Linked DNA regions of Homo sapiens: region 1 is linked to region 2. A link means that fine-mapping ties the variant in region 2 to the expression of a gene that starts in the linked region. Tissue or cell type: whole blood. Region 2 holds a variant in brackets; the other region holds the start of a gene. All regions are shown on one strand. Distances are between the middles of the regions. Region 1 holds the start of JARID2 (jumonji and AT-rich interaction domain containing 2). Region 2 has its middle 25 kb from the start of JARID2-DT.

Region 1 (5,370 bases), 26 kb before region 2:
GCATCTTCCTCCTCTTCCTCCTCCCACGCCGCAGCCCGGCTCTGCGGCAGCCCCCGCCCCCGCCCAGCTCCCTCCTCCCCCCGCCGCCCCGCCGCGCCTGGAGCCTCCCGCCCGACTTTTGACGTCACGGAGGAGGAGGGGAAGGTTCCACCCGAGCCCGTCCCTTTGTGACGTCACAATGACAACAGAGTGCGGCCGGGAGCGTCGGGGAACCGAGCGCCGCGGGGGGCGGAGGGAGGGAAGAAGGGCTGGGGCGCCGGCGCGCGGCGGGGGAAGAACCGGGGGGCGGAGAGGGGGCGCGCTGACGTCTCGCCGGCTTAACCTGTTGCTCTCGAGACTGCGTCGGAGCCCGCAGGCAGGGCCGCGGGAAGCCGGCCGGGCCGCCGCCGCCATGCTCGGCCGTGTGCGCGGTGGGGGGCGCCCGCTGCAGCTGTGCGCCGCGCGCCCCCTCCCCGGCACGCCCACGCCCCCGCCCCCGCTCCCACCCCCTCCCCGCGCGCTCTCCCCTCCCCGCGCCCCGCAGGCCGCGCCACCCCCGCGCCCCACCCGCCCTCCTGCCCGCCTGCAAGCCGGCCCGGGTAGACCGGTGCCCGCCTCGCGCGCCCGCCTAGAGCCCGGAGTATGCCCCCTATAGGCCGCGCGCGCGCGCCCGCCCGCCCAGCCCCGGCCCAGCCTGCCGCGACCCCCGCGGGCCGTCCCTTTCGCAGCCGGCTCGAGGACGTCGGGAACACCGGCTCTGCTCCCGGTGCATTAACTCGTGCCGTGCCTCCCGCAGCCGCCGCCAGCCACGGGCTTGCAGCCGGACGCCCGGACTCGGAGACACGATCCGCTGAACGCCCGCAATAAGAAAGAAAACCCACCCCACGCTGCTCTCCACCTCAACGAGGTCCGGAATGGGAGGCGGGGTGCGGTTCTCGTCCAAGTTCTACCCCATTTGCTTTGTGGCTGCATCCGAAACGGACGTGCCCCGGGAAGGCGTCCACGCTCCAAGACAAGGTTGCCTCAGTGCAGTTTCTACAGCCCGAGTTTAAACTAGTCCTTTGCATTCTACCCAGCCCTCTGCAATGCGGATGTATTTTAATTCTTAAATTCTTTATGGAACAGCTTTCTAAGTTGGGCTTGATTATTTAACCTTGCATTTCTTTCATAGTTGAAGTTGACGTGTCTAGATAAGGATCAGCTCTCTTGAAGAGGCATTCAGCTTTTCCATTAAATATATTTTTTTACAAAACCAGTGCCCCGAAGGTCATCTCTCATTACACACACCACAATGATCAAAAAGGGAAAATATTAACACCAATTTGTCTACCCAACTTAAATAAACTTTCCTCTTACGTTGCATTATTCCTAAGGTATGTTCATTTGGCCTTTTTTGAAAAAAAAAAAGAGTTATTTAATTTAAAGCATGCAGCTAATCACAGATCACTCGAGTGCATATTTGGTTAATCCCTCGGTCCCCCTTTCCTCCCTCCCCTCAAACTTAAAAAAAAAAAAAAGCCACCACACACAAAACAAAAACACTCCCCATGCCAATCAAAACGTAGCTGTACTATGCACAAAACAAATTTAACTATTCCAAGCCATTTAAATCTAGGAATAATCACCCAATTTCAGAAGCCCAGTTAACAGGGAGAAATTATTTGTAGTTACTTACATATGCATTCACGTACACACTTAAAAACATTAGCCATAGTGTGTGTCCTTTTCCCCTACAACTGGAAACCATGAATTTTTTAAACAAAACCAGCCTCATTATTAAAGTCAATCCCAACAAATGCATTCGCTGTAACATGATTCCCAACTGGTTTATGTTGCAAACCAGATAAGCCAAAACGACCACAGACATTAAATTTGATGTGCCAGTGCAAAGAGAAGATCGCCATAATCGGACCCTCGATCGCAACTTAAAGGGCTTCCAACACACATGCGTTACACGATTTTTCCAAATAACATTAATAATAATAACACAGGCTCATTTGCATGCAAAGTGCAATACGGGGCCAAATCCGCTTGAGAATGCAGTTTAGTTACATTACCGCAGCCACCCCCCACCTCAAGCTCCACCAAAATCCCTTGCCTTTCATCTAAAAGTAGATTATGGTTGTGTCATTCGAGGTCAATTTATTCACTTGAGGTATCTCTACACCAGTCTGTTTTTTCAACCAAACTAGGCAGACACCACTTTGCTTGAAAAGCCCTCTTTCAGAAAAAAAAGAAACAGCCTTATCGGACGCTGTGTTTAAAACCCTTCAGAGGCAGAATTATCTATAAACTTGACATTCACAGCCATTGCTTAAAACTGCAAGTCAAAGGATGTGTTGTTAGGAGCACTTACGTATTTCTTCTGAATGATATTCCTCTTGGGTCTTTCCTTGCTCATTCTGAGATCCAAATGCTGATTGCAAAAGGGGACAATTGCTTCATGAATTTAAAGCCGTCAGAAATTTGCAAAAAAATATCCTGGTGGTTTTTATTGTTGTTGGTGGTGGTTGATCTTGTAATCCGACTTTTCTTCCTCTTCCCCCAAAGCCAGATTCGCCTTGAAATAAATCCGAAATTGGGAAGGAAAAAAAAAGAGCCAAAGACGAACGAAGCAAACAAAAAAAAATTCACTTTAGTAAAACACTCATAATGGAAAATTTCCCCCGAAACACATACACACACACACAAAAAAAAACCGACGCCCTTCACTCCCCCCCCTTTTTCCTCCAAAAACTACATCAGCGAAACGTGAAGGTCCTTAGTGTCTGATCCGTAGTTACATCTTGGAAAAGAAAAGGGAAAGATAAATAAAAAATGTTGGAAGTCACGTTTGTGCTGCAGCAGCAGTGCGAGCAGAAGAGTCAACTCCAGCGGCGGCGGCGGCGGCGGCGGCAGCACCACAGCGAGGGCTCGCCGAGTCTCTTTTTTCCAAGCCCCCTAACCAATGAGAGAGAGGCTATCCAGCCCAACTTTAAATGGACTCTGCTTTTATACAAGTTAGGGCTCCTCGGATAATTCCCCGCCGGGCGCCAGCCGAAAACTCCCACCGCTCAGCCGCCAGGCGCCCGCTTAGCCTGGTGCCGACCGCCCCTGGCCCAGTCCAGGGCACCCCCGCAGCCTGGCCAACCAGACACCCGAGCGACCTCGACGAACCCCTCCCAGGCAAGCCCTCGGGCGTCGCTCCCACGCCGAGCCCAGGCGTGGAATTGAGAGAGGCTCCCTAGCTCAATGCATGGCACGCTCCGTCGCTCCACCTCACCCCCTTTCCCCTGCCTGCCGCTCACCCCACGGCCGCCCCACGCCAGCCCCCGCCACTGCCTTCGCGTCTACCTGCAGCCGGGCTGCTGGGTAGGAGTGCCCCAGGACGCCCGGCCCCGGGGAGAGCCGCCTATTCCCGGGGCACCTTAGAATGGTCCCCTTGATCTTCTGGAAGTTGTAGTCCCCCGACTACAAAATGGCTATGGCCACGGAAGCTGGGAACTACAATTCCCAGCCTGCCCCGCAAAGCCTGTCACTCAACTCCCCTCCCTCCTCCTCGCCCCCTCCCCCTCACTGGCCGTGCCAACAAACGCTTGGACGTGTCCCGCGTGCGACACTGCTAGAGGCTGGCTCGGGATTGGCCCGCGGAGCGTGTGGTCCGCGAGCGAGGAACTCCCCACGCCGGCCCTCCTCCGCCCCCCGGGCCCCGGCCCCCCTCCCCTGGCGGCCGCCAGCCCCCTCCCCGCGCGCCCCGCCCCCACCCGCGGCGCGAACCGCCTGTGGAATCGAGGAATCGCGCGCGTGCGGCCCGGAGCCGCGGGGGAGGGACGCGAGGCTTCCCCGGGGAAGGCCTCGGAGCGTGGCGGTGAGGGGGGCGGTGTCAGGGAGGGGTTGGAGCCCGTCCTAAGGAAAACTGGGCCACGCACCAAGAGGAATCCTCGGTGCGAACTAGTTGATCGGCGGCGCCTGCTGCTTGTGCCGTGCAGCCGGTGTCACCTCAGGACAGCGCCTCGCGTCTGTGTACAGAGCGTGCTGCGGGCGCCTAGGGTAGTCCGAGGTCACCCCTCTCCGCGCCCCGCAGTCGCGCACGCCCCCACGCGCGGGGTGGGCGGTGGCCGGGGGTCGCCGAGTGGAAAGGCCACGCCCCCCCACGCCCGGGCTCGGCACGCTGCCCCTGGGTCGCGAACGCGCCTCCGCTCGACCCGCTTGGAGGACGTCGCTGGTGGCCCAGGAGTGAAGCCCCGGCGGCTGCCTCCTGAGAAAAGATAGCCGTGTTTAAAGAGACTGAACGGGATCTTTGCTTTGCCGGGCGTATTTTGTGATAAAATACCACAAAATGTTGAGACAAAAATGAGTGGAATATGGAGACCGAGCCGCACAGACACGCAATTGTAAGGAAACATCTCGAACACCGAGTGCCAGGAATATCAACTGTCCGGGCCACGCAAGAGCCTGCTTTTTACCTGCCTCCAGCCCCCTGTCGTGCTGGTTTAATCGCTGAAACAAATGAAGTAGCAGGCCCTGGCATAGCGCTTTGGGCCTTCGCCTTATTAACAACTTTGTCAAGTCTCGCATCGCGATTCTGCCTTGTTAATTTCCTTGTTTTTCGCTGTGGTTTTGGAGAAGCAATGTTTTCCATGATCTCTCAGGCTAGCCTCGGAATAAAACGTGGCAGAAGCGCTCCCGCGAACACATACCCATATATTTTATTCTACCTATTCCCTAGAGTCTGCTAACTTCAAAAGTCTAGATACTCACACAGCTGTTTACTTGCAGCAGTATTTGAAGAGATAACCTTGGTGTCTAGAAAGGTCTCAGAAACTGGAGGTAAGAGACCTGGATTCAAATCGCGCCTTGGCCACTTCCCAAAAGGCAACCGAGAGCCTCTCTGAGCTTGTCAGTTTCCGCATCTGCAAATTAGTGGTGATCAAACCTGTGGGGATGATTATGTGATAAATAACAGTAACCTAGTTTAAAACTAGGCACGTTATTGGAAGCTTTCAGTAAACGAAATAAAAAGCCTTTTCGAGAGGGTATTTTCCTTATTATTTTTACCTTTTCAAAAAATCTGAAATGAAATAATTTTATCTAATGTTCACTTCACAATTGGAAAAATAAATGATCTTTTGTGCCCTGAATACTGCAAAACTTGTACGCTGGTGCCATTTCCTGGGAAGGATCCAATGGGGCAGACTACAGTAGGGCCACCCAAGGTGTTTTCTAAAAACTTTCTGATCATTAGGACTGGCATACTGGGAATCTCCACGTCTCCACGTTGTTAAGATTTTAACCAGCTTTCTGTAAGTTTAACGCAGATACCTCATTCCCTAGGCAAATATTAATGAACAAAGGTGAGTTTCTTTTCTGTTCCCCTAACTAGCCCTGGGGCCTGGACTTCTCAGTCCTGGG
Region 2 (5,370 bases):
GCTTGAGACCAGCCTTACCAACATGGTGTAACCCCTTCTCTACTAAAAATAAAAAATTAGCCGGGCGTGGTGGTGCATGGCTGCAATCTCAGCTACTTGGGAGGCTAAGGCAGAAGAATCGCTTGAACCCGGGAGGCAGAGGTTGCAGTGAGCCAAGATCTCGCTATTGCACTCCAGCCTGGGCAACAAGAGCGAAACTCCATCTCAAAAAAACAACCAACCAACCAACAACTACAAAAACACCTCAGCCCAGTTGTGGGTCTTTCCCAAGATCTAGGTGCATCTATTTGTACGACTGGAAATTACCCCAGAGCCTGAGGGATCAATAAACAGCTGAGTTTTTCCAGATTTTTTTTTTAACTTTTTTTTTTTTTTTTTTTTTTTGAGATGGAGTCTCGCTCTGTCGCCCAGGCTGGAGTGCAGTGGCGCGATCTCTGCTCACTGCAAGCTCCGCCTCCCGGGCTCACGCCATTCTCCTGCCTCAGCCTCCGGAGTAGCTGGGACTACAGGCGACCGCCACCACGCCCGGAGAATTTTTTGTATTTTTAGTGGAGACGGGGTTTCACCGTGTTAGCCAGGATGGTCTCGATCTCCTGACCTCGTGATCCACCCGCTTCGGCCTCCCAAAGTGCTGGGATTACAGGCGTGAGCCGCCGCGCCCGGCCTTGCTCCAGATTTTAAAGGGACAAGCATCAGTGGTGAAGAGATGCTCCCCGGGGCTGTCCCACCCAGCCTTCCATTCTTGCAATCACTGGCTGCAGGTGAGGGGAGACAGGAACCTCACTTGCTTGGCTGCACTTTTGTTTTTCCACAGAGTTCTTACTCCAAGAATCAGGGCTTCCTGATTGACCCGTCTGACTAGAATCACGGCTCTCTCATCCCGAACCATCCCGGCTCAGCTTCTGAAAGAAAAAACTTTCTAAACAGATGCTGCTCTCTGGGGACAGGCACTAAGGTTTCTGCAGCCTCTTAGTCTTTCAGTCACTTTAAGTCCTACTCCAGCTGGTGGCTGTGGCTACCTGTCAGAGAGAACATAGGTCTGTCTGACTTTCCTGATCTCCGGAGTGGAGACAGCCCTGCAGTGCAGGGTCAAGACAGGGCAGAACAGCCTGGCCTGACTCCTCTCCATGGGACTCCTCTCCATGAGTAGAGCAGGTTGGAATGGGGCCAGCTGACCTCTTCAGCTCTCAGCAAACTTTTTAAAGCCACCAGCCACGTGGCCTCCTTGACTCTGCAGTCTCCCTGACTGATGTAGAGTCTCCCTGACTGACCCTTTTTAAGCACAATAAATTTAACTTGGATTTCTTGGGGTCAAGCTAACCTCACCTAAAGAACTTGCTTAGCAGAGTTGAAGCATTGCTGAAAAATAACATTCATCTAGGAATAAAAATGACTTTGTTATGTAGGGATTTGACAGAACAAAGGGCAGCTGCTCTGAAATCAAGTAGGAACCCTGGGTTGAATTTGGTGGCTCACATTTGTAATCCTAGCACTTTGGGAGGCCAAGACAGGAGGATCGCTTAAGTCCAGGAATTCAAGACCAGCCTGGGCAATGTAGCAAAGCCCCATCTTTATATAAAATAATAATAATAATGAAAGTAGGAACACTGGTGTCCCTCTTGGCTCTTCCCTCCCCATATTCTCCCTAGCACCAACAGCCAATCAGTCACCTGATTCTTCTTATTTATTTTATTTTATTTATTTATTTTTTATTTTTTTATTTTTTTTTGAGACAGAGTCTCGCTTTGTCGCCCAGGCTGGAGTGCAGTGGTGGGATCTTGGCTCACTGCGAGCTCCACCTCCCGGGTGCACGCCATTCTCCTGCCTCAGCCTCCTGAGTAGCTGGGACTACAGGCACCTACCACCACGCCCGGCTAATTTTTTGTATTTTTATTAGAGATGGGGTTTCACCGTGTTAGCCAGGATGGTCTCAACCTTCTGACCTTGTGATCCGCCTGCCTCGGCCTCCCAAAGTGCTGGGATTACAGGCGTGAGCCACCACGCCCGGCGATTTTTCTTTTTATAAAGCACCTTTCAAACCCATCCACTTCTGTTTCTTTAACCTAGACCTTCATTAGCCTAGACTTTCAACTATTACTTGTCCCACTGCAACACCCTCCAAACTGGTCTTTCTGCCTCTTGCCTGGCTACAATCCATCCTCCCCAGGGAAAAGATTGGTCTTCCCACCATGCAATCCTAGCTAAGCACTTCGGTGGATCATCTGTGAGGACAGCCACCAACAAATTATTCTTTCTGTGAACAGGAACGGATGGAATCCATTTCCTCTCCCCCGCCTTTTTTTTTTAGAGTGGGGAGCTCTGGTGCAGGATCCCCTCCTCTTGAGTCTGGGTCTGTAAATTGCTTTTACCAACAGAGTGTGGTGAGGGTAATATTCTGGGACTTCTAAACCCAGGTGTTAAGAGCCCAGCTTCGCCAGGCATGGTGGCTCATGCTTGTAATCCCAGCACTTTGGGAGGCCCAGGTGGGTGGATCACTTGAGGTCAGGAGTTCAAAACCAGCCTGGCCAACATGGTAAAACCCCCCGTCTCTACTAAAAATACAAAAAAATTAGCTGTGCGTGGTGGTGGGCACCTGTAATCCCAGCTACTCAGGAGGCTGAGGCAGGAGAATCGCTTGAACCTGGAAGGCAGAGGTTGCAGTGAGCCGAGATGGCACCACTGCACTCCAGCCTGGGCAACAGAGCGAGACTCTATCTCAAAAAAAAAAAAAAAAAAAAAAAGAAGCCCAACTTCCTTTTCCTTCTCTTGTCCATCAGCTGCCATGTAAAGTCGTCTGATAGCCAGGTGTAGTGGTGCATACCTGTATGCTACTTGGAAGGCTAAAGCAGAAGGATTGCTTGAGCCTAGGAGTTTGAGGCTACAGTGAGCCAAGATCATGCCATTGCACTCTAGCCTGGGCAACAGAGCAAGACCCTGTCTCAAAAAAAAAAAAAAAAAGAGGCTCTGAGCCAGATTACTGGATGGTAAGAGATCAGGTGAAGATGCAGGGGACCAGCCAGCCTTCACACATTGCAGCCACCTAAGGCATCAGAGAAGTGAATGAAGTCATAGTGAACATTCTGCCAGTGACTTCAGATTCTCCAAGGCCTGTCAAGCCACTCCAGCGAGCACCATCTGGAGGAAGGAAGACCCATCTCTGTCAAGTGTTTAAACCACTAGATTTTGGCATCATTTTGACATGGTTTGTTACACAGCTATAGATAGCTGAAACATGCCCTAGTTTTTTTTTTTTTTTTTTTTAATTTAATTTTTTTTTTTGAGACAGAGTCTCAA[C/A]TTCCCAGGCTGGAGTACAGTGGCGCAATCTCAGCTCACTGCAACTTCCGCCTCCCAGGTTCAAGCAATTCTCCTGTCTCAGCTTCTCGAGTAGCCAAAACTACAGGCATGAGCTACCATGCCCAGCTAATTTTTTGTTTTTGTTTTTGTTTTGAGAAGGAGTCTTGCTCTGTCACCCAGGCTGGAGTGCAGTTGCGCCATCTCAGCTCACCGCAAGCTCCACCTCCTGGGTTACGCCATTCTCCTGCCTCAGCCTCTGGAGCAGCTGGGACTACAGGTGCCTGCCACCTCGCCCGGCTAATTTTTTGTATTTTTAGTAGAGACGGGGTTTCACCATGTTAGCCAGGATGTACTCGATCTCCTGACCTCATGATCCGCCCACCTTGGCCTCCCAAAGTGCTGGAATTACAGGCGTGAGCCACCGCGCCCGGCCTGTATTTTTAATAGAGACAGGGTATCTCCATGTTGGTCAGGCTGGTCTCGAACTCCTGACCTCAGATGATCACCCACCTCGGCCTCTGAAAGTGCTGAGATTACAGGCATGAGCCACCGCACCCAGCCTAACATGCCCTAGTCTTGTTTTTGTTTTTGTTTTTTGAGACGGAGTTTTGCTCTTGTCGCCCAGGGTGGAGTGCAATGGCGAGATCTCGGCTCACTGCAAACTCTGCCTCCTGGGTTCAAGTGATTCTCCAGCTTCAGTCTCCTGAGTAACTGGGATTACAGGAATGTGCCACCACGCCCAGCTAATTTTGTATTTTTAGTAGAGATTGGGTTTCACCATGTTGGTTAGGCCAGTTTCAGACTCCTGACCTCAAGTGATCCACCCACCTCAGCATCCCAAAGTGCTGGGATTACAGGCGTGAGAGCCACTGCGCCTGGCCAGCATGTGCTATTTAATATTTGATAAATGAATGACTAGCCAACTGAATGAAGGTTAGAACTATGGAATAGGCCAGGTGTGGTGGCTCACACCTGTGATCCAGCCCCCACCACCTGTGGTTCACCTGTCTTCAGCAGGCTTCCTTCCTCTGCAAGATTGTCGCCTACAGCAACCAGGGCTTACTCTGAAAGGGGAGAAAGCACTGCTCTCCATAATCATCCAACAGTTTGTACTTTCTTTCTTTCTTTTTTTTTCAAGGCGGAGTTTCACTGTTGTTGCCCAGGCTGGAGTACAACGGCGCGATCTCGGCTCACCGCAACCTCCGCTTCCCCGGTTCAAGCAATTTTCCTGCTTTAGCCTCCTGAGTAGCGGGATTACAGGCATGCACCACCGCACCCGGCTAATTTTGTATTTTTAGTAGAGTCAGGTTTCTCCATGTTGGTCAGGCTGGTTTCGAATTCCCGACCTCAGGTGATCCGCCCCCTCGGCCCCGCAAAGTGCTGGGATTACAGGCTTGAGCCACCGCACCAGGCCAGTTTGTACTTTGACAGTGATTGGCTCATCCCTGAACTACTCTAAGCAAATACTACGAGTTAACTGGTTTGGGTCTAGATTATTATCCATACATCACCCAATTACTGCGGCAGAGGAGTAGGTAACTTTAAACTGATTTATATATGCCAATTAAGGTCTATGCCTCAGAGCTGGGATAGGTTTATTCCTACTCAAGACTTAATGAGGGGCCTGGCACAGTGGCTCATGCCGGTAATCCCAGCACTTTGGGAGGCCCAAGGTGGGTGGATCATTTGAGGTCAGGCGTTCGAGACCGGCCTGGCCAACATAGGGAAACCCTGTCTCTACTAAAAATACAAAAATTAGCCAGGCGTGCTGGCAGGTGCCTATAATCCCTGCTACTTGGGAGGCTGAGGCTGGGAGAATTGCTTGAACCCGGGAGGTGGAGGTTGCCGTGAGCCGGAGATCCTGCCATTGCACTCCAGCCTGAGCGACAGAGTGAGACTGTCTCAAAAAAAACCCAAAAACCTATGGAATATTCGTTTTGGACTTGATCATTTTTTAAAATTTTTACTTATTTTTATCTTTATTTTTTCATGCTTGGACTGTTAGAGAAAGACTCATAATTTTTATTCTTCCCTTATATCATCCCTGATCTTGCCCAGCAGATGTTATCTTCTAAA

Evidence for each region. PIP is the estimated chance that this variant, and not a neighbour inherited with it, causes the effect.
Region 1: it holds the start of JARID2, and the variant in region 2 is fine-mapped to the expression of JARID2 in whole blood (TOPMed, PIP above 0.99).

The regions. Positions count from the first base shown.
Region 1 is chr6:15,243,550-15,248,919 of GRCh38, reverse strand. It overlaps JARID2 (jumonji and AT-rich interaction domain containing 2), which reads right to left and starts at 2,851. Exons shown (of 18, transcript NM_004973.4): 1 at 2,336-2,851. The coding sequence starts at 2,380. JARID2-DT (JARID2 divergent transcript) reads left to right here and starts at 3,546. Exons shown (of 1, transcript NR_187237.1): 1 at 3,546-4,997. JARID2-AS1 (JARID2 antisense RNA 1) reads left to right here and starts at 224. Exons shown (of 2, transcript NR_120502.1): 1 at 224-410; 2 at 776-1,105. RefSeq lists silencers at 1-478, 599-658, 3,644-3,903, 3,914-4,223 and enhancers at 2,774-2,873, 2,984-3,033, 4,223-4,736.
Region 2 is chr6:15,217,796-15,223,165 of GRCh38, reverse strand. No RefSeq gene overlaps it. Among named protein-coding and RNA genes, the nearest start is that of JARID2-DT, 25 kb to the left of the region's middle. The variant C/A (reference allele first, on the strand shown) is at 3,295.